5 separate regions of the Homo sapiens genome follow, and all the other regions are linked to region 5. The links come from fine-mapping of genetic effects on plasma protein levels. A gene starts in region 5. Each other region holds a variant in brackets. All regions are shown on one strand. Distances are from middle to middle.

Region 1 (5,413 bases), 31 kb before region 5:
TTATCCCTCCCCCTTCCCTGCCTGGCATGGTCTTGTAGCTGGAAGACGAGGCCTCAGCTCTGGGGTCTCATTTCTGCTTCACAAACCTCCATCAGCACAGACTGTCCCCATGTGGAGCCCAGCCCCCTGCTGTTATCTCTGAAAAAGATCTACTCAACTCTATAATCATTTTCGGCTACTGAGCTATTCGTCCTACAGAAATAGTAAATGCTATTTTACTGTGCATGGCCGGTGATACCAGCAAGCCTAGGACATTGGTCCCAGCGCCTATCCTGCCTATTGTCCTACTACAGGGACAACTATGACTATGCTAGCTGGAAATGATGATTCCTTGGGTACCCAGCCTGACTATGACACAGGCTGTCATAGTCATTTCCAGCAAGCAAAATAGGAACAGGAAGCTAAGAATCTCAAATACATTTAGAATGACCTAGTCAAATGCCATTTCTTTTTTTTTTTCTTTGAGACAGAGTCTTGCTCTGCTGCCCAGGCTGGAGTGCAGTGGTGCAGTCTCAGCTCACTGCAACCTCTGCCTCTTGGGTTCAAGCGATTCTCCTGCCTCAGCCTCCAGAGTAGCTGGGATTACAGGCACGTGCCATCATGCCCAGCTAATTTTTTGTATTTTTAGTAGAGACAGGGTTTCGCCATGTTGGCCAGGCCAGTGTCAAACTCCTGACCTCAAGTGATCTGCCCACTTCAGCCTCCCAGAGTGCTAGGATTATAGACCTGAGCCACCACACCCGGCCTACCATTTATTTGTGAAAAAAAAATAAAAAATTCCACTTACATGGGTTCCCCAGAGTCGTCAGATTCATAGAGACAAGGAGTGGAATGGTGGCTGCCAGGGGCCAGGGGAAGGGGAATGGGGACTTGGTGTTTAATGGGTCAGAGTTTCAGTTTTGCATGGTGAGAAAGTTCTGGAGATGAATGGTGGTGATGTTCCCACAACAATTTGAATGTACTTAACACCACTGAACTGTACACTTCAAAGTGGTTAAAAATTGTCAATTTTATGTTATGTATATTTCACCACAATGAAAAGAACAGCTCATAAGAAGGAAGCTGTAAATAGTAATAATAATAACCTGGAATTATGGTTTAGGGATTATAGCTTGCTTTCATGGTTAAAATGAGAGCCTGTAAGACTCAAGCTATGTAATAAAAATTCTGGTGGAGAAAGTATAGGTTAATGCTTGCTCTAGAGAAGGAGGCCTGACACTCACGGTGTCCATTTGAGCCTGTCCTAAATCTCTCTGGACCTCAGCCTCACCATACCTACAATGAATTGGCCTCAGATCTTCTGCTCTGATCTTGCACCAAGCCTGGGCTTGCAATCTGCGTGTCTGTGGACTCTTCAGGTATATTTCTGAATGCAGGTGCGTTTCTCTGGAGGCAGGGGCCATGACCTTCAGCAGATTCCCAATTGGAAACTCACCTCCCAACCACGTTGAAGACCTGAAAGCTGGAATGGTTCATCTGTCAGCAGTCCTTACAGCTCCTAACATTATAAAGACAGAAGCCCCTACAAACTCAGCCAGACCCCCACATGTTTAGAAGTTAGACTTCTCTGATCCTTAAAATGGCTACCATGAGAACATGGCCCCTGGGCTCCCTCCAGAAGGGAGCTGCAAAGAGGGAGTCCCATTCTAGCTCCATTTCTGGGTGTTTTGCTCAAATTGACCTGTTTTCCCTATTGAAAGAGAAAATTCCGGCCAGGAGTGGTGGCTTATGAGCCAAGATCGTGCCACACTGCACTGCAGCCTGGGAGACAGAGCGAGACGCTCTGTCTCAAAAATAAAAAAAAAGAAAAAAGAAAGAAGTAAAAGAAAAGAAAGAGAAAATTCATAAAGGAGGGACCCCGTCTTCACTGTGCCTTGGTTTTGATTCTTGGTTATGAGTGGTTCCATGGTGGTGGAGGCTGCTGATGGAAAGAGGAACAGAGGGGTGAGGGATTTTTGCTGAAAATCTAGAGAATACTTAGAAGCCCCTATATTTCCTGGGCCCCAGAAATGATTGGAGCCAAATGGGCTTGTGAGGAATTTTGAAATTTTGAATTTCACCTGAATTTTGGATGTGATTTTTCTCTATCCCGTGCATAGAAACTGAGAGAGGCTCTTTCCCTCAGGATTTTGTGAATCTTGTCTTTAACTCATCGCCCAAAGTAACAAACTCATCTTACTAACTTCAGAAAAAGACATCACCAGCCTGGCCTGGGAATAACACATAGGAAATTGAAGACAGTAGTATACTTAAGTTCACAAAAGGCCAATTCTTATGGCCGTATTTCAAATGCTCATAACGCCTTCTCATCCATTCTACCAAATGACTTGTCTTCATAATATATTCAGAGTGAAAAAACATAATGGATTCTTCCGAGATATTCAATTAGTTCAATAAAAAGAGAAAAATAATTTTTCAGTAAAGAAATTTAACTAAATGACTAAAACTGACAGTGAAAAACCAACTTCAAAGTAATTATGCATTTCTTTTGAGTTTGCGCTCTAACGAAAGTTGATGATATGCCACCATTAGAAATAGCCATCCTTCAAATGATCAATTGCATTTGTGTTGCTATTTTAGCAGACATTTATTTGAATGTTTACTCTGTAGCTGTCTTTGGGTGTTGATATATTTAAATTTCCACCAGCCCCGCTAAAGAGTATCGGCTCGCACTTCTTCATGACTCACTGCTCAGCTTCCTTTAAGCTGGTTTTTTCCCCGTTAACAGAAACCTCTTCCAAAAGTGTCACCAGTAACATTCTCCTTACAAAATCCGGTTACTTCTCTTCACTTCTTATCCTCGTAGGGGTCATGACACATTTAATTATGGGTCATTGACTCCTCTTCCAATTCTCTCCTGCAAAACTAGCATCTGCTCTTTAAACTTTGGGGTCTCTCAGGATTCCGTATTCCACCCCTCTGGCATTCTGAACTTTCACCCTGGGTAACCACTTTGTTAGAGAAGTTTCAAAGCCATCTATGTGTTGATGACTTCCCAACCCCTAACTCAGCCTGGGCACTTCCGCCAAGCTGCACAGGTGCATTGAATTCAAGGGGTCGTTAGCACAATCAAGACTGAACCGCTGGTCTTCCCACTTCCCACTGCACTCTGCTCTTCGGGCAGCCTCATCTGAGTGCTTGATCACCAAGAAAAGACACTGCTTTCCTGCTCGAGCTGCACACATCATGCCTCTCTTCATCCATGGCTGGTCCGCCTGCCTGCAGGGTCTCACATTTCCTATCAATCCAATCGTGTGCTTTCTGAAGATAAGTCAGATCAGATTGTTCCTGGATCACTGCCTTTCCGGAAAGCCTCTGGTGGCCTCGTGCACTCTGTAGAATTGGTACAGG[T/C]CCCTTGTGATGCTACTCAAGGCCCTCCAGGAGCCCATGCCATCCTCAGTGCCCTCAGCTCTGGAGGAGCAGCTCCACCACGGCACCCCATGACTTTGCATGTAGAGCCACATGGGGAGGGTATGACCTGCAGCTGCGCTGAGTCTTGGCAGAACACCCTGCGGTCCCCCAGCCAGTTTCTCATTGCCTTCCGGGTTCTGTGAGGTGCGGGGGCTTTCTGCCTGCCCCTCTCAGGACACAGCTGCTGCTGTAAAACTGCTGAGAAGCAGCTTGGAGTTGGCTCTACTGCAACATCCCTTCTTTCTGTTGCAGTTGTCCATTCCCTTTTATTCTGCCATGACCTGCGCCAAGGCCATCATGCCCACGCCTGCTTCTACTGTCTAAGTAATAAGCTGTCTGCATCTAAAGAGGTCTCCTTGCTTCTTTGCTAGGACTTGCCTGCGTCCTGTATGCCAACTTCAAATACTCACTACCCTTCTAACCCCCGTGTAACCTGATAGCCTAACTGCAAACTTAATATGCGTTTCAAAACATAAATATAGTACAAGAGAAAATAAAATTATACTTGGAAATCTGGCTAAGTGAAAATAAGGATTAGAAAAATAAAAGAAAGCCATAGGTTAGATTAGTACTGTATAGTATTAGTTTATTAAACTGATAAGAACAGATCTGTACTTCATCTTAGCCAAGAGGCCAAGAAACGATTGTACTACTGTATAAAATTATGGTGCTGTAATTTTAGAGGTGCTTCAAATTATTTTGGGAATAAGGCAAATCTGTATACTTAAAATGTGTGACCTATGAATTTGGCTCTAACCTTTCTTGCAGAAAATTAGAAACTACTAACAAATGGTTTGTCCCAAGAGCAAACCTCTAATGCACAAATGATTAAAGATGAACTCAGAGAAAAATGAAGGCAAGCTGAGTTTTATTAACATTGTTTAATGTTTAAGTGAAATACATTATTAGGGCTGGGCACAATGGCTCATGCCTGTAATCCCAACACATTGGGAGGCCGAGGCAGGTGGATCACTTGAAGTCAGGCGTTTGAGACCAGACTGACCAACGTGGTGAAATCCCATCTCTACTAAAAATACAAAAATTAGCTGGACATTGTGTTGCACACCTGTAATCCCAGCTACTTGGGTGGCTGAGGCATGAGAATCACTTGAACCGAGGAGGCAGAGGTTGCAGTAAGCCGAGACCACACCACTGCACTCCAGCCTGGGTGACAGAGTGAGACTCACCAAAAAAAAAAAAGAAAGAAAGACATTATTAGATTGGTGATTATGAGGGCCATTATCTTAAAATAGTATTTCCTAAAATGAAAAACATTTCAGGAAGTAGCTGAAATATCAGGAAAAAAACAAGGCTTTAAAAATAAGGTCCAAAGATTATATGATGATTGCTTCTATGCCCCTGTAGCCAGCTAGTGATCTCATTTCTCATCACTAACCCAGCTTTCTAAATCTGTCCTGTCCAGCAGGGTCAGCCATCCCAGCCCCCAGTGGCACCATCAGCCATCTGAGACTCTTTTTCACCCCCAGAAGAAAATGTCTTGGATTTAATCTTTCCCTCTTTAGTCAACTCCTCAGTTAGAGTAGAGCTACAGCAGTGAAACCATGGCCATCTCTCACGGAGACTCCGTCCTCCCCCTGCCACCAACATGTGTGAATACCTGGCTACTTATGTAAAAGATTTAATTTGATAAGTGAGGAAAAGTCATATTTATCTCCATTCTTTGAATAGATTTCAGTGTGTGAGAATGACTTTTTAGTGTGTGTCAGAAGCTTAGTATTCTAAGGGTAAAGTATTAAGCCTAAAGAACTTCAATCAGAAGTCTTAAGGCCGGATGCGGTGGCTCATGCCTGTATTCCCAGCACTTTGGGAGGCCTAGGCAGGCGGATCACGAGGTCAGGAGTTTGAGACCAGCCTGGCCAACATAGCGAAACCCCATCTGTACTAAAACTACAAAAAAATTAGCCGGGCATGATGGCAGGTGCCTGTAGTCCCAGCTACTCGGGAGGCTGAGGCAGGGGAATCGCTTGAACCCGGGAGGCGG
Region 2 (6,524 bases), 38 kb before region 5:
TTGCTCATTAGCTCACATCTAAATTGTGGCTCCTCTCAGATGGGCCCATCTTCCTGATTATCCTCCCAGAATGTGGGCCTCAGGCTTCCTTGGGACACTAGCCAAGGTCCCTCTCTATGTCCCTGGTATGGGCACCCTGTTCTGAGTCCCAGCTCTGCAGACCTCTGCCCCACCACACACTGTTTTCTCCCCAAGGGTTAGATTAGGAAGGATTTGAATTTAGACAGAGCCACTACTCTCAAAATAGAAGCAAACTTATGGAAATACAAACATATATGATTACATTTACAGGAAGAGCCATACATATTTGTTTTTTAAATCAAATTATAGGTTGGCACAAAAATAATTGTAGTTTTTGCCATTGCAAGTAATGGCAAAAAACCACAATTACTTGTGCATCAACCTAAGAATTCAAACATATGCTGAGCACTTATTATATGGGCTTCCTGTTTTCCCTGTTCTCTGTCTTCCTACATTTCATTGTTCACACAGACAACCTCACTTTGCACACTGTTTCCAAATAAAACCACTTGTACTCATAACTTCCAAGGTAAGACATATGCTGCATGCCTCTGGGCCTACCTCTGGGAAGATTTGGGACAAGTGGCTGGAAAAGTCTACTACTTTCTAAGACTTCTCAGAGCTAACTTCTGAAAGTTTGTGTTGAGATCCTAACATTCTGTGCCTATGAAACCAACCCATCTGATATGGTTTGGCTGTGTCCCCACCCAGAATCTCTTCTTAATTGTAATCCCCACATGTCAAGGGCAGGACCAGGTGGAGGTAACTGAATCATGGGGGCAGTTTCCTTCATGCTGTTCTCATGGTAATGAGTGAGTCTCACAAGAACTGACTGTTTTATAAGCATCTGGCATTCCCCTGCTTGCACTCACTCTGTGCTGCCACCCTGTGAAGAAGATGCCTGCTTCTCCTTGTCTTCTGCCATGATTGTAAGTTTCCTGAGGCCTCCCCAGCAACTCGGAACGGTGAGTCAATTAAACCCCTTTCCCTTATAAATTACCCAGTCTCGGGCAATTCTTTATAGCAGCATGAGAATGGACTCATATACCATCTCACTGTGGCAAGACCAGGGATCCTATTCTTCTAATGGGACCCTCTTGGGAGAGGCATTTGGAGTCTTGTCTTACTGGTCTAGAAATTTTGTAACATGTATATCTAGTCCTTTGTGTTCCGATGTGGATAGCAGCTGATGAGGTTTGGCTGTGTCCCCACCCAAATCTCACCTTGAGTGGTAATAATCCCCAAGTGTCGAGGGTGGGGCCATCTAGAGTAATGGAATCATGGGGGCAGTTTTCCCCGTACTGTTCTTATGGTAGCGAATAAGTCTCAAGAGATCTGATAGTTATATAAACGGGAGTTCTCCTGCATGAGCTCCCTTGCTTGCTGCCATGTAAGTTGTGACTTTGCTTCTCATTCTCCTTCTGAATGATTATGTGGAACTGTGAGTCAATTAAACCTCTTTCCTTTACAAATTAGCCAGTCTTGGGTATATCTTTATTAGCAGTATGAGGATAGACTAATACAGAAACATTATTCGTAATAGACAAAAAGTGGAAACAACTCCAATGTCCATCAGCTGGTGAGTAGATAAACAACATGGTCTATCCATACAATGGATTATTATTCAGCCATAAAAAAGAATGAAGTATTAATACACACTGCAACATGTACAACCCTCAAAAACATTATGCTAAGTGAAAGAATCCAGACCCAAAAAACTACCTACTATATGACTCCATTTATATTAAATCTTCAAAATAGGCGAATCTGTAGAGACAGAAAATTGATCAGTAGTTGCCAGGGGCTGGGAGTGGGCATGAAGAGTTAGTACAAATTGGCCCAAGGTTTATTTTTGGGGGTGATGAAATGTTCTAAAAGTAGGTAGTGGTGATGGTCGCACAACTCTGTAAATGTACTAAAAATTAATAGTCGCAAAAATAAAGAGTAAGAAAAAAGTAAAGTAGAATTAGAAAAAAATATTTTTAATCCCTGCATAATTCTGAGTTTAACATGTTCATGGTTATTGTAAAGAAAATTAAAAATAGATAAATGTATTATTTTAATGTTAATTACCTAGGGAAATAATCACCACTTACATTTTTATATATGTCTTTCTAATTTTTCTCTAATCATATGTAGATTTTTAAATTAGGATCACACTATGTTTTTAGTTATGTCTATTAATGACAAGATATAAAGCACTTATATATATAGCTACTGAACAACAGAACCTGTGAAAAAAAAATCTCAGTGTTTTTTAGCTAAGTGGAAATCCTGTTTGGTCAAGGTTTTTCATGAAATAAAATCCCTGAAATTTAAATAGACAAAAAAACACACACACAAATTGTAATCGCAATAGGTTTGTTAACCAATGCACACAGCAAATCAATATGCCATGACACCAGGTTGCAGCAGAGAAACAGGTTTAATCATAGTGTTAATGGAAAGGGGTCATGATCCAGACCCCAAGAGAGGGTTCTTGGATCTCATGCAAGAAAGAATTCAGGGCTAGTCCACAGAGTAAAGTGAAAGCAAGTTTATTAGGAAAGTAAAGGAATAAAAGAATGGCTACGACATCGAGCAGCCCCAAGGGCTGCTGGTTGCCCATGTTTATAGTTTTTTCTTGATGATATGCTAAACAAAGGGTGAATTATTCATGTCTCCCCTTTTTAGACCATATAGGGTAACTTCCTGATGTTGCCATGGCATTTGTAAACTGTCATGGTGCTGGTTGGAGTGTAGCAATGAGGATGACCAGAGGTCACTCTCATCGCCATCTTGGTCTTGGTGGGTTTTAGCCGTCTTCTTTATTGCAACCTGTTTTATCAGCAAGGTCTTTATAACCTATATCTTGTGCTGACCTCCTATCTCATCCTGTGACTTAGAATGCCTTAACCGTCTGGGAATGCAGCCCAGTAGGTCTCATCCTCATTTTACCCAGCTCCTATTCAAGATGGAGTTGCTCTGGTTCAAACACCTTGACCACAGGGTCACAGAACGAGAAGATGGGAGGGAACCTCAAAGCCATTTCCCCAAGGAAGTTGAGGCTTGGGTTTTTGAGGGCTTTGGAGTGGGCAGAAGTGTGGAGATCAAGAGTACAGGGTGAAGTCATAGGAAGGGGAGAGGAAGCAGCTGTGTTCTCATGCTGATCCTGTTCCCCTGTGGGAGACTTCCAACTGGTGGCTGGAATTCTGGGGAGGTGTGTCTGAAAAACATCTTAAGTGTCTATAGGAACAATGGGGATGCAAATCAATTCTTAAACAGTCTTCTGGCCTTAATGTCAGAGATCCTATCTAGGGGAACGGTGGGGAAGCAAATGTCAGGATCTAGTGCTACTGTAACTGAGGAACTGGTTAGCCACTCACTGCAGCAGAGTCCAATTAACAAGATCCAGGCCTGGTACAAGAAAAGTGAATTTATTTTTGAAGCTAGCTTGGAAAGACACAAAGTGTCCTGCTTTAAGTGTGCTGCTTCATCTTTGGAGCAAAAAGCAGACATGTTTATAAGGTTAAAGGGGAAG[T/A]GAGCAAGGGCAGGAAGTCCCCCTGCTAGCCTGGTGTCTTATCTACCAAACAGCTGAGTTGGCATACAGTTGAGTTGGTGCCTTCCTGGGCAGAAATAAGTTGTAAAAGTGGCCAAGTGGGCGTGTTTTCACCATGTCCTCCTGAGGCCACCCCAGAAGTGGGAGTTCCGTGGAGATGTGCTTTGATCTGCAAATTGACTGTCAATTCTGGAGAAGAGATCACTGGGGCACGTAGATGACCTTGCCTTGTAGGGAATGTGTGGTGAGGGGGAGGTGAGAGGTTATTTTGCATTTCAAAAAGGGCTAGGTAGGAAGCAGGCTGAAAGGGGAAAGGAGAAGAGAAGAGAAAAAAGTAATTAAACCACCTCAGAAAAATCAGGGTACTTGGTTACGGTACATGACCTACTGCAACAAGGAACTGGGCCAGGGTGCAGCCTGATTAACGCTGAATTATAACTGTATTTGTACCCAGAACCTGGCATGCAATTCCCGTCAACCCTGTGGGGATGGTTTCAAAACCTGACCCTGTTTCTCATTGCATCCACACCCACAGCGTCAAAGCAATGCCAGGAGAACCACGCGTGGCTCATGTTTCTTGGAGGAGTCCTGGTTCAGTTCTACAGGCTTCCCACACAAAGCAATATACTGTTGGCCATGTAGGTAAGAAAAGCACAGGAAACTGTTTTTTACCCTTTCTACCAGTGTTTAGTACCAACCACAAGCACCAAAATACTCAAACTTCGAGCTCTGTGGCTCTGGCTCTTATGGACGGGGAAGTGCTTTACAATTGCCAGGCATTCCATTCACTTTATAGAATAGCCAGAAAGCTCCAGGGATGGGGATGCCCTGCCAGGGGGCCACAGCTCTTAAACAGGTGACATGCTTGTGACTGGAAAGAGGTCCCGATCCAGACTCCAAGAGAGAGTTCTTAGATCTCACGCAAGAAAGAATTCAGTGCGAGTCCATTAAGTGAAAGCAAGTATATTAGGAATGTAAAGGAATAAAAGAATGGCTACTCCCCGTAGACAGAGCAGCCCCAAAGGCTGCTGGTTGCCCATTTTTGAGGTTATTTATTGATGATATGCTAAACAAGGGGTGGATTATTCATGCCTCCCCTTTTTAGATCATAGAGAGTAACCTCCTGATGTTGCCATGGCATTTGTAAACTGTCATGGTGCTGGTGGGAGTGCAGTAGTGAGGACCACGAGAGGTCACCCTTGTCACCATGTTGATTTTGGTGGGTTTTGGCCAGCTTCTGTACTGCAACCTGTTTTATCAGAAAGGTCTTTATGTCCTGTATCTTATGCTGACCTCCTATCTCATCCTGTGACTTAGAATGCCTTAACCACCTGGGAAGGCAGCCCAGTAGATCTCTGCCTCATTTTACCCAGCACCTATTCAAGATGGAGTTGCTCTGATTTCAATGCCTCTGACACACTAATGTTAGAGCACCTTGGACATTTTCCTTAATCTGAGTGTCTAGTTTTCTTTTCTAGAAAATGAGAAAAAACTAGAATGTAGACCCCCATGTGCTCAAAGCAACAGCCTGCCTGGTTTGCTTGGACTTTTCCTAGACTGTATGATAACAGGTGCTCGATTCCTCTACGTAAATCTTCACCTTTTATTAATCATATTACCCTGCTTCTCTTAGAAAACGCACAGTTCTGCCCTCCCTACACCAAGATCACAAAAGGCTAAGTGTAAGTCATGAGCCAACCAGACCAAGAGTAACCCAGGCAGGCCAGGTGGCCAACTTGGCCATCTCATAGGCAGTTATCACTGCTCAACTTGAAGAAATACAAGGTTAATTATTGGAGTTTGAAATCCAGCAGTGGAATCCATGTGGTCCTATCGTGGTCATATAATGTGCTGAGGCTCTTACAAGTTGTCAGTGCTGAGTGGGAACGACAAAGCCAGAAACAAGGGCAAGCAGAGGTTGAATGCCAGGAAGACCGTGGCAGGGTGCCAAGTCCATGAAGCAAAAGCACCGCCATGGTCTAAAAGGCATAGTCCTCTAGAGCAACAGAGCCAGTAACTCAGATCCAAAGGAAAGAAAATGATAACCCTTTCCCCCTCAAGACTTGCCATTGTATGGCAGCAGGAGGGCTGCTTGCAAAATAAATAACCCACCAACATTTGTAGGTTGGAGATCTCTCAGTCAAGAGTGACAGGCTGTCACTGAAAATGGGTCGGAAGGAAAACTGTCATTCCTACTAAGCAATTTTAAATAGGCTTTGTTTCCAGATATCTGTGCCTACAAGTCCTCATTTCCTCATTTGGAAATGGGATTTGATATGGTTGTATTAGGAGGTAAAATTAAAAATATCTCCTTACATCCCATTCACACTGCTGCATGATGGAATTGCCAACCTTGTAACCAAAACACATGTCTTTCTAATAAGAAGTCAATGACACAAGAGAAAAGAGATTCCTGCAGCTAAGGTTTGCTCCTGGTATTTTCCCCATGATATCACCCAACACAATGTACACTCTGTGGGTGGAGAAGGATGGGGGGTGACTTTTTAGCTTGTATACTTATTTGAGAACCTTAAATGAGATGCCTATTAAACTATCCATGTATACAAATAGACTCAATATTAAGAAAAGAAGTAGTATAAGACTGAAAGACATGCTTAAGAGAAAGGAGGGAGCCATACTTCAGGAATGGAGAAATGAAGAAAAATCTATACTGGCTAAAGTCAGGTTAGCTAGGAGGGAACATATGAGGAAGGCCCAAGTCTTATGCTGCTAGAAGCCAGGGCAGAGGCAGTAGGCTGGAAAGGACCAGTGGTCATCTTGGAAATATGTGCTCCACTTGAAGCCATTTGGATAAAAAATAAGAATTCTTAGAACACTGGACATCCCAGAAACACGATAAATTAGCAGACCAAATGCCAGTCTGCAACTGCTGGTTAAAAAGAAAAATCCAATTACTTATAACACTGAATATAGGTCAGCAGAAACTCCCGGCATCAAAGAAACT
Region 3 (6,524 bases), 81 kb before region 5:
TGTCTGATTCGCCTCTGCTTGGCCCTCTGTCTCCAAGCTGCTGCTTAGCTGGAGGCTCCTCAGTGACATCAGCTCACTGTGGCTCCCTCTGCCTGGAATGTTCTCCCTTGCCCAGGCCTTCATGTGACTGTCTCCTTTTCACTTCAGTCTCACTATCATCTCCTTTGCAAGGCTTTCCCTGATCACCTTCGCTAAAGAAGCCCTCCTCAACTCTGCCCACCTGTCACTGGTCACTCCCTGTACTGTTGCCCAATGGGACGGCTTTCAGAGCACATACCACTCTCTGAAGTTATCGTATTGTGTGTTAACTATTTTTATGATCTCCCTTCCTCTTGTAGAACAGAAGCTCCATGAGAACAGGAATTTCATGCCTTGTTCTCTTTCATATATGCAGAGTAAAGAAGAATGTCTGACATATAATAGCTACACAATAAATATTGAAAGAATGAGGGGATGGGTGGACAGATGCATAGATCCATGGAAGAATGGATGGATGGATGGATGGATGGATAGATGGATGGATACATGAATTGATGGATGCATGGATAGACACATGGATGAGTGATGAATGCCTGGGTGGGTGATGAATGCATGGATGAATGTGGAATGCATGGATGGATGATGAATGCATGGGTGGGTGATGAACGCATGGGTGAGTGGTGAATGCGTGGGTGAGTGATGAATGCATGGGTGAGTGTGGAAAGCATGGGTGGGTGATGAATGTATGGGTGAGTGATGAATGCATGGGTGGGTGATGAATGCATGGGTGGGTGATGAATACATGGGTGAGTGATAAATGCATGGGTGGGTGATGAATGCATGGGTGGGTGATGAATGCATGGATGAATGTGGAATGCATGGGTGGATGATGAATGCATGGGTGGGTGATTAATGCATGGGTAGGTGATGAATGCATGGGTGAGTGATGAATGAATGGATGAGTGTGGAATGCATGGCTGAGTGATGAATGCATGGGTGGGGGATGAATGCATGGGTGGGTGATGAATGCATGGGTGAGTGATGAATGCATAGGTGAGTGAGGAATGCATGGGTGGATGATGAATGCATGGGTGGATGATGAATGCATGGATGAGTGTGGAATGCATGGGTGAGTGATAAATGCATGAGTCGGTGGATGAATGCATGGATGAATGATGAATGCATGAATGGATGGATACATGGATGGATGAAGTTGTACAAGCTCAAACCAGCTCAGATTGGAGGAAGCGTCTTACTTGAAGCCCCCTGTGACTATGTTGGGGCTTGTCTCCTACCATCTCACTGAAGGAGCCTATCTCCTAAGCTCTCTCCTAGACACCTGTATCCTTACTTTCCCCTCCCTTCCCAGCCTGAGCAGTGTCAGCGTCAGGAGCAAGATGATTGATGAAGTGTCAGCAGGGACACAACCAGCTGGGTGAGCAGGGGCTATATTGTAACCTGCAGCCAGGAGCTGCTCCCTTGAGATGGCCTTTGGGTACAACTCTATATGGCTTCCCAGCCTTTCTTCCAGCTGCAGGATCATCCTACCCCTGGGACTCCCTTATTGGTGTCCTCATTAGGCCAATCAATGCAAATTAAGCCCTGATTCACAGATAGTGGGGATATACAGTCACCACGACACATATGGCCTCTGTCATCCAGTTTCACTCAGTCTAGAGAAAGAAAGAGATGAATAAACAGACCCTTTTAGTATAAAAGCTATGATGAAAGTGACATTTGAGGTGAAAACACTACAATATAACAGCAGCAGAGAGAAAGGCACATCAGTCAAAGTCAAGGAAGGAAGGGACAGCTGGGCTCAGACTTGCAGGTAGACCAGGGCAAGGATGTTCAGGCAGAGGAAATGGGATAAACAAAGGCATGGTGGCCAAGAGAGCTAGATCCGTTCACTCAACACACAGGCAGGACTGCAACGGGTCTTGTGTATCCTGTGGATCTAATCTATCCTTAGGCGTCAGTCTGGGAAACATGAGTTCCGTCTTCTCCACTAATCTGGGAAGGAGGGTCAAGTGGTACCTCTGTCTCCACCTCCTCCAGGCCTACACAGTTTGTGACTGACATACTGAGCACCAGGTCTGCATCACCCACCTTATCACATGTGGGCACAGGATCTCTGCCGGGGGCAAGCGGTATGATGTGTCCTGGTCACGGTCTGGCTGGTGATTTGGTTACATCCAGACACGGAAGTCGACCTAGAATAACCTAAGACAAAGGCAGTCGTTTCTCTGGCTGACATTGTCAGAACGTTAAACAACCAAAAACAGCAACAAAGTGATGGGCCAAGCAGGCAAGTTTGGGAACAGCTTTAATGACTAATTTCTAATGAGAGTTTCAAAACACTAATTTTCCAGAACAGAGAATCAAGTTGTGCTCATTTATAACCCGTCATCTGCAATGAGACAGAGGATATTTCTTTCTGTGTTGTCAGTTAACTTTCTGAGCTGGACAGAATACAAACTAGAAGAGGTGGGCCGTAAATCAGCTCCTTTGGAACTGATAAATGGATATTGTACAAATCCTGCATTTGCATTGGCTCTGAGGACATAAATCAATTCTCATGATCTTACTTTGGAAAAAAATTTCCCTTTGAAGTCAGACTGAGCGATTTATGTAGCATTCTTTCCTGACTTTATTTTTCTCAGCTTTTTAATGATTGTCTTTTCACTTTCTGCACTTACACAACATTGTAAAGTGTTGCATTTTCATGTAGAGAAAACTGGACCTTGGTCTGAATCTTCCCACAAGGGATAATTTTATAACTTTTTTGCTCAGCCATTGAATAACAATTGCTTTTGGAAAGATTGTCATAATGTATCAGTTAGAAGGCACCTTAGAGACCATCATTTCACATGACCTCTGTTTTTTAGATGGGGAAACTGAGGCCCAAGAGTGACAGTCATGTGCTGCAGGTCACAGGCCAAGTTTGTGACAAGACCGGGGTGTCTGTTCGGGTTTTGGAGAAACAAGGACCCTAGATAGGGTCCATTCATTCATTCATTTATTTATTTATTTGTTCATTCTCCAGACAAATCGTTATCTTGGCCCCTTCTGCTGCAGCCATTGCCACTAAGAAGGCAGGCCCTGCAGGGGAGACTCTGCACGTCTTTTGTTTGTTGAGTATTTGCTAAACGGGCAAAAAATGGAAGAAAAATCAAAACATCACTGTTGGCTGGGCACGGTGGCTCACGCCTGTAATCCCGGCCCTTTGGGAGGCCGAGGCGGGCAGATCACGAGGTGAGGAGATCAAGACCATCCTGGCTAACACGGTGAAACCCCGTCTCTACTAAAAATACAAAAAAAAATTAGCCGAGCGTGGAGGCGGGCCCCTGTAGTCCCAGCTACTCGCGAGGCTGAGGCAGGGGAATGGCGTGAACCCGGGAGGCGGAGCTTGTAGTGAGCGGAGATGGCGCCACTGCGCTCCAGCCTGGGGCGACAGAGCAAGACTCTGTCTCAAAAAAAAAAAAAAATCACCGTCCTTTTTTGGCGTTCTGTCAGTCAAGAGTATTCTGAAGACTATCGAGGGAGGAGTGTTTGGTTTGTGCCTTGTTTTGTTCTGTTTTAGCAGCCCTGGAAATCATGGATACCTCCCTTCCTTGAAGTTATCTTTCCCATGTATAACAGCTGTATTGATTTATGAGATATAATTCACATACCGTACAATTCACCCATTTAAAATATACAATTCAATGGTTTTTAGTGTAGTCACAGAGTTGTGCAACCATCACCGCCCTCGATTTTAGAACATTTTCAGCACCCTAAAGAGAAGCCCCATCCCCCTTAACCGTTAACGTGCTTCCTTCTCCCCACTGCTCTAGTGACCACTAACCAGCTTCCTGTCTCTGTGGGTTTGCCTAGTACGGACATTTCATCGGAATGAAATCAGCTAA[CAT/C]GTGATATCCTTAATGGTTTTGTAGCAGAAAGACATCTACGTGGGAAGGGACGCTGCTGAGTGTTTAGAGAACAGACACATTCATCATTTTATTGTATTTTCTCAACTTTAGAACAGTTTTCAAACATGTGGAAACGTTGGAAGAATTTTATAGCAAGCACCCTTTGCCCCATCACCGAGATTCTCCCAGCACATCTTCTTCTGCTTGCTTTATTTAGTGCACACCTATCCACCTGTTCCAGAGATCACCACTGCGGCAGTGGGTTCTCAAAGGAGAACCTTCCAACCTTCCCGCATTGAGAAAGAAAAATATCAGTTTTACTAAATGAAATATCAACATTGGAGATTTTATAAGCCGAGAATGTTAGTACATCAACATTAGAAGCCCTAAAAAATAAAATTGCATTCAAAGGCCAAAAAAGTCTTAGGCTTGCTAGCTCTCCAGGAAAGGCCTGTGTGTTCAGGACAGGAGGACTAAGGACCAAACAGGTTTGGGAATGACAGATCCCTTGACGGAACTGGCTGACAACTTTGCTCACCAGTCACAGCAGGGCAGCCCAGGGAGTGAACAGGGGCGTTGGCGGGGAGGGCAGCCATTCCCGCCCGCTGCTAATGGGCTCGCTTCTCAAAGGAGCTTTTGGGATTCAAGGGTTTAAGTATCAAGTTTGACTGATGGATTTGGAGGGAAGAATTGAAAACTGCCTGAGGGAAGGCGCTTTGCTTTTTCTTTTGTGAGGCAAAAGCTTTTGAAAACTGTGACTGTACAAAGAGCCACAGCTCCTCTGAGGAGTCTGTTATGCGGCAACACATACTCAGATGTGGACAGCAGTGAGCACGCTGCCTGGAAAGGGGGAACAGCACCGCGGGCAGGCTTCAGAGCCACACACCACGTCTCTGTCTCAGAGTCTATCCTCGACCACAGGGTTTAAGTCTTTGATGTGCACACTGGGCCCTGGAGAGAAGGTGCCTGTTCTCACGGGCTGACCCCACAAGCCTGTGAGCCGTAAGCGGTGTGATTCGCTAACAGTTGAATGGCACTGGCTATGTGTGTATGTGTATGTGTGTGCGTGTGTGTGTGTGTGTGTGTTGTGAAGATACATTTAGTTTGAGTCCCTATGAAACGAGGAGAAAAGGTCTTGACAAACAACAGTTCAATAGCTCCTGCCAATATGTGCAATGCAATTCTTTTTAGTGAGTGAATTAGGCTTGATAAGAACTACATTAAAGCTTCTGTTGGAAGAGGAATTCAAAATGCTCATCTTTGTAATTTACCCACTCAGTCACCAGTGTTTACCAAGTGCCAATGGAAGCCTGGAGAGAAGAGAAAGCAAAGATAAATAAGCGTGTCTCTCGGCCTTCAAAGCACTGTGCCCAGCAGGAAGGAAAGCACACAATTACGACATGCCGTTTTTATTGTATATATGTTTATATATTAGGTTGGGCCATGTGAAATTGCTGATGTGACGGGTTTTGACGAGAGAAATGGCAACTGTGTGGTTCAACCTAATATTTAGATAGTATTGTCTTAGCTCAGGCTGCCATAACCAAATACCACAGACTGGGCAGCTTGAATACAGACATGTATTACTCACAGTTCTGGAGGCTGGAAGTCCAAGATCATGGTTCTAGCTGGTTCAGTCTCTGGGGAGGGCTCTCTTTCTGGCTTGCAGACAGCCACCTTCTTGCTGTGTCCTCATGTAGCCTCATTTCCTTGGGGCATGTACCTGGAGGGTGGGGATTAGGGAGCATACAGGGTCTCCTTTTATAAGGATCCTCATCCTATCAGATCAGAGCTCCATCCTCATGACCTCATGTAACCTTAACTTCCTAAGGAGAGGCCCACCTCCAAGTACTGCCACAATGGGGGTTAGAGTTCTATCAACATCCGAATTTGGGGGGAACAGCAACAAATGTTCAGTTCACAAGTATAAAATGGATATATTATTTATGTGCATATACATCATATACTGTTACATATCATAGATAAGACATGCATATTATACATATGTGTATGTATATATAGTAAATATACCATCTATAGTAATAAGGTTTCACAAAGAAGAGAAAATGGAAATGTAGAGATATAAAGGAAATCATCTTTGTATTACTAGTCTTTTTATTGCCAAAAAAATTTTATTTGCAAAACAAATATAGGCTCATGGTAAAAATTTTAGCAACTGAGATAGGCAAAACTAAGAAAGATGTAAATCCCACTAGCCAGATACCACTACTCCTAAGACCCAGGTCAGACAGCGAGGCATCACTGTTAAGAGCATGGGCGCTATGGTTGGACAACTCTATCACTTACTAGCTGTGTGTCCTGGACCCAGCTACTTAGTCCCTCACCACCTCTGTTTCTTCATCTATATAATGGGTCAGTAATCCCACCCACATGAAGTTATTGTTAGACTTAAATAAGCTGACCCATGTAAAGTGCTTGGAAATTCCCTGGCACAAAGCAAGTGCTCAATAAATATTATCTGTGACTCTATTATTATCATCATCATGATCATAATTATTACCGCAACTGCCACTAGCATTCCCTTCCAAGGTATTTTCTCAGCCAGCAGCAGCAAATCTGTTTGGGATTGTATGTCAAGCCCTGTGAAAAAGAAGGGTTTGGCACACAGGGCTT
Region 4 (6,524 bases), 21 kb before region 5:
AACCTCACTCTTTTATTGGAAAAAGTCTCATCCACTCTCACCAGAACCCTCCTTGCCTTTACAGATACACACGCCCTGGTAAGCCTTCTTCAAAATCTGAACAAAGCAAACTACAACCTGCCCATCATGGTGACAGATTCAGGGAAACCACCCATGACGAATATCACAGATCTCAGGGTACAAGTGTGCTCCTGCAGGAATTCCAAAGTGGACTGCAACGCGGCAGGGGCCCTGCGCTTCAGCCTGCCCTCAGTCCTGCTCCTCAGCCTCTTCAGCTTAGCTTGTAAGTTGACCTAACTCCAGTGCATGCACAAACAGGAAATTGTAACTTCACTGGGTTCGTGAAGCCAGCATTTTCCCATATACCTTTCCAAGAAGATGTTTCCCAGAAGAATCATTCATCTTTAGTGTATGTCTGTATGATAGAACATGTTATATGTAAAAGTGCTCCCACTGATGTTTAAAGGCATCTTAACAATCCCTGCCAGCCAGTCTGAGGGATTGTGCAAAGGTGTTCATTGCTAGCCTGCAAACTAGGTGGTAAGCAAAACTTCCTACAGCTGCCACTCAACTTGAGCTAATGAAAATGCGCCCAGATTAGTTAACTAGTCTATCAGAGGCCTGTTTCTCTCTACATTATGCAGAATAATCTTTTGCAAGGTTAAAACAGATATTATGAGACTTTCTGAGAATAGTCGTGAGAATTTATGGATGGAGGGTGGGCTGCAGGGAAAATGATAAATGCATAATTTACACTGTTTTTTCACTGGCTAGTAATAATGACTATAATATCATGAAACATTGTTTTTAACAAATGAATTATTATGCCAAGTAGTATAGATGTGAGGATAAAATTAATAAATACATGTCTCAGATATTCCTTATTTATGAAATACTAGTCCAATGTTAACTTTAGCCGTTATTCATATATAACTGTTACCATCCAAAAGCCTTTTGGGCCTTGCAATTTACCTTTTGAGAACGTATCGGTGTAATTGTGAATTAGGAAGTTGGGAAATTGACAGAAAAAGAAAACAGAAGGTTTTTTATCCTACTGACAGTGGTGAGCTGCCAGGAAATCACATAGTACAACATTGGACATTCACGTATATAAAGCTCTGTGCAAGACCAGAGTCCTGTGAGTAGAAGGAAAAATGAAGGGCCAGGCACGGTGGCTCACACCTATAATCCCACCACTTTGGGAGGTCGAGGTGGGTGGATCATCTGAGATCAGGAGTTCAAGACCAGTCTGGCCAACATGGTGAAACCTTGTGTCTACTAAAAATACAAAAATTAGCCAGCCATGGTGGCACATGCCTGTAGTCCCAGCTACTCGGGAGGCTGAGGCAGCAGAATCACTTGAACCCGGGAGGCGGAGGTTGCAGTGAGCCAAGATCATGCCATTGATCTCCAACCTGGGTGACAGAGCAAGGCTCTGTCTCAAAAAAAAAAAAAAAAAGGAAACAAGAAGCCATTATAGCATTTCACTGGCCCTTCAGACTGGGCATTTCTGAAAGCGAACATATCATCTTCCCCTCCTGACCTGCCCCTCTGCCTGACTTGTCTCTGATGACTGTACCACCACCATCATCATCACCATCATCTCCATGTCTCCTTCCTGGTCTTCCCACTGCAAAGCCCAACAGAGTCTAAGGGTCCAACACTTTCCATCCATCCCTGCCTCCACCCTCCTGTCTCAGGTACTAATGTCACTTAACCTCGATTATCTCACTGGCTTTCTAACTTTATCTTCTGCAAAGAGAGAGAGAAAATAGAAATCAAGAGGCCACCCCTCGGAGGCTTCTCCTGAGTCTTTTCTGTAAAGCAGAGACAATTTCAGATGAAGGGTTAGAGATGGGAGTGGGGACTGAGAAGAAATTAGGAAACCTTGTCAAAGCACAGATAATTCGGCTGTACAGCAATTGGGCTAAACGTTGAGCAGGGGTGGTCCAGAGGAGTTTGTATACTGTCTTAGTCCATTCGGGCTACTATAACAAAATACCATAAACTGGGTGGCTTATAAATAACAGAGATGTATTGCTCATGGTTCTGGAGGCTGAGAAGTCCAAGAATAAGATGCTGGCAGATTCATTGTCTAGTGAAAGCCCACATTCTGGTTCACATATGGCGCCTTCTCCCTGCATTTTCACATGATGGGAGAGGCAAGGCAGCTCTCTGGGGCATCTCATCCCATCCCATCCATGAGGACACTGACTTCCTGACCCACTAATTTCCCAAAGGCCCACCCTCGTAGTACCATCACCTTGGGGATCAGGTTTCAGCATATAAACTTTGGAGGGGCACAAACTTCAGAGCATAGCAGATACCATGAATTTATAGCAACACATTATGCTTGTTTGCCCCCTTGCTTTGCTGACAGATATCCTAGACCTAGATTTCTAGAGTGTAGGAATGTTCCCTTCGTGAGGGTATGCTGTCTGGGGCCTGGTTTGCTGAGTCATCACTAGCAACCTGCAAGTCACTCTTGCATAGTATCAGCTGGGGAGATGGTGGTGGATCTCAAGTCTGGCTGCACAACAGAAGCACCTGGGGAACTTTTAAAAGTAGCTACCCATACCTGAGCCCTACCCTATGGCTGGAAGGGCAGCTTAGACATTTGTCCATTTTAAAGCCTCACCAGGTGGTCCGAAGACACTGGGAAATCAGGACCGTCCTGGTGAGTGACTCCAACGTTTAGGTACAGGCTCCTGGACATTCTAACAGTGTCCTCCAATCTTGTCCCCACCCTAAAGACGTGCTGGTTCCTTCGGTTCACAACTCAATAGGAAACAGGTGGAGGAGAGTAAAGTTAAGAATACAAGTGTGAAGATGTTTGCTACCGATGGTGCCAGAAAACCTGGCACCATCCCTCCTCCAGAGAGGAGGGTACGGTGAGATGACAGAACACATCCAGTATGAGAATTTCTATAGCACCAACTTTCCAGAAAGTGTTTCAGAAGCTTACAGAATTAAAATGTGAACCAGACAGGAAGTTAAACTTGACAAGGAAGAGAAACCAACTAGGAAGAGTTGGGGATGGAGTTAACTGACACTAAATTTGGCCTGAGCTTCTCATTGGCTTGCCGTACACAATTGCCACTGTG[T/C]GATAAGAGCAACGTGTTAATTGCAGTGGTAGTTCCTAAATGCTGCTGCACGTCAGAACCACTTAGGAAACATTTTCAAACTACGAATTCCTGAGCTCAGTGCCCTAGAAACTTTCATTTGTGCTCTAGATTACGACTTGAGCTTGAGGAATAGGGCGTTGGGGAATGGTAATGAATGGACGCATGGACAGACAGATGGATAAATGAAAGGAAACATATTTCTCCCTCTTTTCTTTTGTTCTTTTTTTCTTCTTTCCTTTGTCTTTCTTTTCTTTTTTTCCTTTATTTGTTTACTTATTTATTTATTTTTTTGAGACAGAGTCTCACTCTGTCGCCCAGGCTGAAGTACAGTGGCGTCATCTCAGCTTACTGCAACCTCCGTCTCCCGGGTTCAAGTGATTCTCCTGCCTCAGCCTCCCAGGTAGCTAGGATTACAGGCATGCACCACCATGCCCGGCTAATTTTTGTATTTTTAGTAGAGACGAGGTTTCACCATGTTGTCCAGGCTGGTCTCAAACCCCTGACCTCAGGTAATCTGCCTGCCTCGGCCTCCCAAAGTGCTAGGATTACAGGTGTGAGCCACCACACCCAGCTCCTTCCTTTCTCTTTCTTCAGAAAGTAAAATATTACAGGCAAAGGTAAAATTGCCTATGTTTCTCTGCCCAATTTTATTTTCTGTTCTCTCTCCTCAGAAACAATAGCTACCATGAATTAGCTATTCATGTGTGTGTCCAGATGTTTTATCCTTTTACTACACACAAACTGACACATACACTCACTCACACACATTCACACATGACACATACAGTTCTATTTTGTGCAGTTTGTAAAACCTCCTGTAATTCATATTATATTGGGCATACCATTCTGCGACTTACTTTTCTTCCTACCTGTGTTACATTCACAAGGTCCATCCACGTTGCTCTAATTCAGCGTTCAGCAAACTTTTTCTGTAAAGGGCCAGGTGGCTTTGTGGGCCATATTAGTCTCTGTCACATATTCATCTTTATTGTTTGTTTGTTTGTTTGTTTCTGTCTTTTGTACCACCCTTTAAAAACGTGAAAACCCTTCTTTGCCTGGGAGCTATCCAAACACGGACTTGAGGTTAGAGTCAGCCCACAGCGTTCCTTGGCTGAACCCCGCTCTGCTCCATTTACTCCTCCTGCTGGAGGATCCTGTCATTTGAATACGGTGCAGTGGATTCCCTTATCAGCAGACACATTCGAATCATTTACTATGACCAACGCTACTACAGTAAGAGATCTACGTTTTCCACCAGCTTCTGGAGTGAGCGCCAGACAGACCACAAGCCCAGCACTGCCCAAAGACCAGCACTTAGAAGCCACTGCTCTACAAGCAATGCTTGCAGCTAGGTGCGGTGGCTCACCCCTGTAATCCCAGCACTTTGGGAGGCCAAGGCAGGCAGATCACTTGAGGTCAGGAGTTCAAGACCAGCCTGGCCAACATGGCCAAACCCCGTCTCCACTAAAAATACAAAAATTAGCCAGGCGTGGTGGCAAGCACCTATAATCCCAGCTACTCGGGAGGCTGAGGCAGGAGAATCGCTTGAACCTGCCAGGCAGAGGTTGCAGTGAGCCGAGATCACACCACTGCACTCCAGCCTAAGCGACAGAGCAAAAAACAACACCTGCAGAGATCCAGGAGCAACTGGAACTCAAGAATAACAGAGTTTGGATAAATCGGAGAGCAGTACTTCCTATGTGATTGCAAAGAGATAAAAATTCTATGTGTGTGTAGTGGGAATGCATATACACACGTACATGTATGTTTGTGTGCACGCACGTGTGTGTACCCAGAAAGTAGACAATTAAGGGGGTTACATCACACATTGCCCTCTGTAAATCCAATTTCTGAACATCAAAGCCTCACTCCGTGACATCTCTTTGAAGAACAAAGGCACTGCAGGACCCTGCTCACGGTTCAGCTACTCGGGACTGGAAATGAGTGTTTTAAATGGAGACCAGAGCCGCTGTGCACCTGCTTGTTAAAATACAGATTTCCAGGCCCATCCAACCTATGGCATCAACATCCCAGGTGACAGGGGCCTCTAGCTCAAAGCCCAGTGTTTGGTTATTTTTATACAATATTTTTATAATAATACACATTCTGCTACCAACACTCCCCATATATTAAGTATTAGTAAACATTGAATTTTTTTTTTTAGATTAAAAAAAAAAGACTTGGCAGTATTTTTTTCTTACCAACAAGGGATTTTCTTGTGGTCCTCACTTTGAGACTCCTGATCTACAGATGACAATCATCAGCAGGTTGCCAAGGATTTCCCACTTCTCATCTCTCAACTGAGCTCTTGGGTCAAGTTAATCTAAGGCAGAATTGCCTGATAATCCCTAAAGAATTGCTTCACAGTTGGTATCATTGATAAAAGACAGGCACAGGTACACTAGCTGTGAAATACCAAATGTGCTTTATGTGCTCGTCTAAGGGGAGCCATCCCATCTAGCATCTGATGATTGTATCTCACTGTAAGTAGGGGCACCTGTGTGTAAAGTCGAAATTATTCCCACAGTGAAACTCTGGATCTCCTTGTGTAGCTGGAAAGTATTCAGTTGACACTCCAATGGTTTGCTGTACAAAGACAGTAGTTTCAGCCCCCAAAAAACAGTTAAAAACAGGTGTTACCACTTACCTTCAAAAACACACTTGGTCTGGTCATGTGTAAAAGGCATAAGATTTTCTAATATTGTTCATTTAAATGTTAGAGATGCCTGCCAAATGTCATGATTTACGTTTTATTATATACCTAGTCCAAGACATTCTTCCTAACCAAAAAGGGATGGACATAATAAGACATGTAAGAATCTGGGTCAGAGGTAGCAGGAACAGGTAACCACCAGTGCCCAACCACTCAAATGCATAAAAGCAGACATCAAAGTGGCCGACCCACGTGTGCTACCATTTATATGACATTGAGAAGAGGCTGCACAGAAGTGAGCTTAAACCCTTAAGCAAGGATTGGAGAAGGAGGAGGGTGATTTCAAAAAACACTGAAATTAGTAGCTTTCTTTTTTTTTGTTTGTCTGTTTTGTTTTAAGACTGAGTCTTGCTCTGTCACCCAGGCTGGAGTGCAAGGGCGCGATTTTGGCTCACTGCAACTTCTGCCTCCCAGGTTCAAGTGATTCTCCTGCCTCAGCCTCTGAAGTAGCTGGGATTACAGGCACCTGCCACCACGCCCAGCTAATTTTTTTGTATTTTTAGTAGAGACAGGGTTTCGCCATGTTGGCCAGGCTGGTCTGAAACTCCTGACCTCAAGTGATCCACCCACCTCAGCCTCCCGAAGTGCTGGGATTACAGGCGTGAGCCACCACGCCAGGCCTGAAATTAGCTATTAAAGTACATAACTTCCTAACTCAGCCATAGTCCTTACAAGAATTTTGGGAG
Region 5 (4,000 bases):
TTTAAGTGCAAAAAATAAAGGAACAAATAATGCCTCCACTAAAAGAGTATCAAGTTTGTTTGTTGTTCATGTAAAGCAAATTTCCAATTGGAATTTGAAAAAAAAAAACCACAAGTGTCTTACCAGAAAAGGAAAGAAAAACTCCAGATTCTCGTGCTAATTCATGTTCCTGAGTTGCCCACAGCCATAAGACAGGTTTGCTCAGAGATCCAGGGTGCAGGCACCCAGCTTTCTTTGCTGAGTGTGGGAGTCCCAGGGATTGGGGTCTAAAGTCAGAAGCCTGAGGGCTTTCTTCACCTTGGCTATTCACTAGTTTTTAAGGAGTTCTGAAGTTTTATGAAAAGTCTTTTACGATTAGCTGGGCATGGTGGTGCTCACCTGTAATCCCAGCTACTCAGGAGGCTGAGGCAGGAGAATCGCTTGAACCGGGGAGGCGGAGGTTGCAGTGAGTCGACATGGTGCCACTGCACTCCAGCCTAGGCAACACAGCAAGACTCCATCTCAAAAAAAAAAAAAAAAAAAAAAAAGTCTTTTAAGAAAACTGAGATACTGGCATCTAGTAGGTAGAAGTCAGAGATGCTGCCCAACGTCCTACAATATACAGGGTGCCCCCTCCACCACCAACAATAAAGAACGACTTGACTCAAATGCCAGTATTGCAGCTCTTGAGAAACTCTGCTCTAAGCTCAAAAAACTCAGAGAATTCTAGAATGGTGAGAAAAAAGGAGAAGATGCAGAGTCAGGAAGTCCTGCGTCTCTTACTTCCTTAATTTGATGACCTTGTTCCAGTTTCTTAACGCCTCTGCATCTGTTTTCTCAAAAATGTAAAATTATGATAATTATATCACAGGGTCTTCTGAGGATTAACTTAAAACACTGAGATATTTTTATTTCAAGTAGTCGGGTAAAGCACTAGCCAAATACCAGTTGACAACAGCCAATTACAAAAAAGTTGTGTATACTTACACAGAAAGGAAGATCTCTCTATAGGAAAGGATGAGGTGTGAAGGGTGAGGGGCAAAGGTGTGAGTGAGGGGGAAGGGGTGGTAAAGGGAGTTGAAGTCTCATGCCTCAAGGCCAACTGGATTCCGGGTTTGTTAGAGACACTGGTGGGTCTGGCAGAGGCGTTTGAACAAGAGCAACTCCATCTCGAATAGGAGCTGGGTAAACTGAGGCTGAGAACTACTGGGCTGCATTCCCAGACAGTTAAAGGATTCTAAGTCACAGGATGGGATAGGAGGTCAGCACAAGGTACAGGTCATAAAGACCTTGCTGATAAAACAGCTTGCGGTAAAGAAGCCGGCCAAAACCCACCAAAACCAAGATGGCAATAAGAGTGAACCCTGCTTGTCTTCATTGCTACACTCCCATTACCGCTATGACAGTTTACAAATGCCATGGCAACGTCAAGAAGTTACGCTATATAGTCTAAAAAGGGGAGGCATGAATCACCCACCCCTGGTTTAGCATATAATCAAGAAATAACTATAAAAATGAGCAACCAGCAGCCCTCAGGGCTCTGTCTATGGAGTAACCATTCTTTTATTCCTTCATTTTCTTAAACTTGCTTTCACTTTACAGACTCGCCCTGAATTCTTTCTTGCATGAGATCCAAGAACCCCCTCTCTTGGGGTCTGGATCAGGACCCTTTCCCGTAACAGCTCTAACACCTTACAGCCTCTCCCTAGCTAAAGTCAAACTGGAGCTGACCCCTCACATAGCACAGTCCTTAAATGAGATGTGTGAAAGTTTCCAGAACATGCCAGGCCCGCAGTCAAGGACTCTCCTATCCCCTTGCCATGAGACCCAATCCTAAAGACCACCTGTGGGGTTGGAACTTGAGGTTCCAAATCAGCAGTGCCCACCTCCTTCAACACCCAAACCCACAGTCTAACCCTGATGCCGGAAGCCTTCCCCACTCAACAGCAGGCATTGCGTGGAGTGAAAGAAGCCAGGCATGATGGACAGCTTCCTGTCTGAATCCCCTCATATGAACCTGACGGGCACAATGAACCTACTGGGCTAAACTCCAGACGCTGGCCACCTTCATAGGGTGGAGATGACAGAACAGGACAGGAGCCATGGGGCTCCCGGGGCGGGTAGGGGTGGGTCATGTTCCTTGGCTTGGGGGCAGTTACAAGGGTACAGTGGGGCTTGTTGAAGGGCAAAAGTTCTGTAAGTTCGTCCCGACAGGCCAAAGAAACCCCAGAGCCGTCTTTCGACTGACTACAGCCTGGAAGAGAGGCCAAGACCACTCCCTGCCTCTATTGCTCCATTTCTGAGTTGGTCTCACTTTCCACCCCACTGACGGCGCGCTGCGTGAGGGGCGGGGCATAGAGGGAGGGGAGGGGCTATGCGAAAGAAGGCGGGGAGAGTGGGGTGGGGCCGCTCCTTGGAACGGAAGCGCGCGGCCTCGAGGCCCTTCCGGTGCGGGAGAAACTACTACTCCCATAATGCCCCGCGGTCCCGCGAGCTGCCAGTCTCGTCGCGAGAAGCAGCGGCCCGGGGCGACTGAGCGGACAAACGGAAGTGTAGGTTACGGTCTGAGACATCACCGCCAAGCTGGGCATCGGGGAGATGGCCGAGACTGACCCCAAGACCGTGCAGGACCTCACCTCGGTGGTAAGGGACGGCTGTGAGGGCCGGAGGCCGCGGCCTTCCCGGGCGGCGCCGGGCCAAGCCCTGCTGGACAGAGGCGCGCCCACCGCGGCCGCGCGTGGCGTCTGCCGAGGCCCCGTTTCTGGAAGCGTCTCTGGCCGAGGCTCCCGGCCACCTTGACCCCCGGGGCGCTCGGTGCGGGCCAGTCTCCCCGCGGGCGCCCCCAAGCCCGACCCCTTCCAGTAGCCCCATTCATCTGTCGCGAACGCCCTCCGGGTCCCTCCCGCCTACCTCTGACACCCTCCCCGCCCTTCAACTCCTCACACACCCCCGGGTGCCCCAGCCCGGCAGAAACAACCTAAAGACCCTGAGCTTTGAGTCGCAGCGGCCTCCCCAGCCCAGCAGTCTAATTGGACAGGTTGGAAAACGGAAGCCCAGAGAAGGAAGATCTTGCTGAAGGCCGCACAGCTGTCCAGAGGCAGAAATGGGGCTGGAACCCCGGGACCAGGGCTTGCGTCCTGATCCCAGGAAGTTGTCTCAGGATCGATGTGGACCGTGTTTGTTTGTTTCGGTTTTTCTTAGGTGCAGACACTCCTGCAGCAGATGCAAGATAAATTTCAGACCATGTCTGACCAGATCATTGGGAGAAATATCCTTTTTATCTGCAGTCGGCCTCCTGTGGGCCTTTGGAGCCTATTTGCCGGGCAGTGGTGGGGATAAATGAGTAGTTTTCAGGCTAGCTTCAGCCATTCACTTGTAGAATTTGAGCTTGGATTGTACTGTGTTTCTGAGAAGGACTGCGCCGAGAGCTAGGGGCAAAGCTGAGTTAGACTCCTGGCTCAAGGAGCATACGTCTACCAATCCTAATAGCTGGTGTGGTGGACCATGCACTGTGAACTAAGCGCTTTTGTGTGTGTCTTTTGATGCTCAGCATGACCTTATGAGTGGGTTGTAGTGTTATCATCTTTAGCAAATGAATAAATTGAGGTTTAGGGGTTCCATCACTAGTAAGGGTCAGGGCTGGAATCCGATGCGGGGTAGCCATGCCCCACAGTCCTGTACTCTTACCCACCAGCGTGTAACAGTGTCGAAAGAAAATTGGAAGACCAGTTTCCCTAAAGTCGTTGTGTTTAAGGCTGTAGTCTGCAGGGACGGGAGGAAAAAGGCTCAATGAGATGTTGGCACGCGTTGTCTTTAACTTCAGCACTTGATGATATGAGTAGTCGCATTGATGATCTGGAAAAGAATATCGCGGACCTCATGACACAGGCTGGGGTGGAAGAACTGGAAAGTGAAAACAAGATACCTGCCACGCAAAAGAGTTGAAGGTGAGGAAGGGGGCAATTTTTTTTTTCTTTTCTTTTCTTTTTTTTTTTTTTTTTTTTTTTGACACGGAGTTTTG

Direction of the effects. Positions count from the first base shown, and alleles are read on the strand shown. Strength reflects both the effect of a copy and how common the allele is. Not every link is listed here.
In carriers of allele T in region 1, the plasma level of the protein whose gene starts at base 2,479 in region 5 tends to be higher than with C alone (weak association).
For the plasma level of the protein whose gene starts at base 2,479 in region 5, A is the low allele of the variant in region 2 and T is the other (strong association).
In carriers of allele C in region 4, the plasma level of the protein whose gene starts at base 2,479 in region 5 tends to be lower than with T alone (weak association).

What was found. PIP is the posterior inclusion probability: the model's chance that the variant is causal. Protein levels are from antibody-based Olink assays in UK Biobank. Linkage for the fine-mapping came from a reference panel and not from the study's own genotypes, which makes the PIPs less certain.
Region 1: its variant is fine-mapped to the plasma level of the HSBP1 protein (UK Biobank, PIP 0.99).
Region 2: its variant is fine-mapped to the plasma level of the HSBP1 protein (UK Biobank, PIP above 0.99).
Region 3: its variant is fine-mapped to the plasma level of the HSBP1 protein (UK Biobank, PIP above 0.99).
Region 4: its variant is fine-mapped to the plasma level of the HSBP1 protein (UK Biobank, PIP above 0.99).

Annotation. Positions count from the first base shown.
Region 1 is chr16:83,773,928-83,779,340 of GRCh38, forward strand. The region is part of intron 11 of CDH13 (cadherin 13); the gene reads left to right. It also overlaps the pseudogene LOC124903810. Among named protein-coding and RNA genes, the nearest start is that of CEDORA, 3.7 kb to the left of the region's middle. The variant T/C (reference allele first, on the strand shown) is at 3,352.
Region 2 is chr16:83,766,014-83,772,537 of GRCh38, forward strand. All of the region lies in intron 11 of CDH13 (cadherin 13), which reads left to right. The region is part of intron 1 of CEDORA (CDH13 antisense oligodendrocyte and neuron associated lncRNA); the gene reads right to left. Among named protein-coding and RNA genes, the nearest start is that of CEDORA, 3.7 kb to the right of the region's middle. RefSeq lists an enhancer at 3,460-3,599. The variant T/A (reference allele first, on the strand shown) is at 3,542.
Region 3 is chr16:83,723,387-83,729,910 of GRCh38, forward strand. The region is part of intron 10 of CDH13 (cadherin 13); the gene reads left to right. CEDORA (CDH13 antisense oligodendrocyte and neuron associated lncRNA) reads right to left here. Exons shown (of 4, transcript NR_188499.1): 2 at 5,482-5,613; 3 at 2,089-2,202. Among named protein-coding and RNA genes, the nearest start is that of CEDORA, 46 kb to the right of the region's middle. RefSeq lists an enhancer at 4,552-5,052. The variant CAT/C (reference allele first, on the strand shown) is at 3,888.
Region 4 is chr16:83,783,190-83,789,713 of GRCh38, forward strand. It overlaps CDH13 (cadherin 13), which reads left to right. Exons shown (of 14, transcript NM_001257.5): 13 at 65-283. Among named protein-coding and RNA genes, the nearest start is that of CEDORA, 14 kb to the left of the region's middle. The variant T/C (reference allele first, on the strand shown) is at 3,105.
Region 5 is chr16:83,805,500-83,809,499 of GRCh38, forward strand. HSBP1 (heat shock factor binding protein 1) reads left to right here and starts at 2,479. Exons shown (of 4, transcript NM_001537.4): 1 at 2,479-2,622; 2 at 3,181-3,247; 3 at 3,806-3,926. The coding sequence starts at 2,578. The coding sequence ends at 3,924. RefSeq lists an enhancer at 2,273-2,774 and silencers at 2,432-2,608, 2,626-2,915.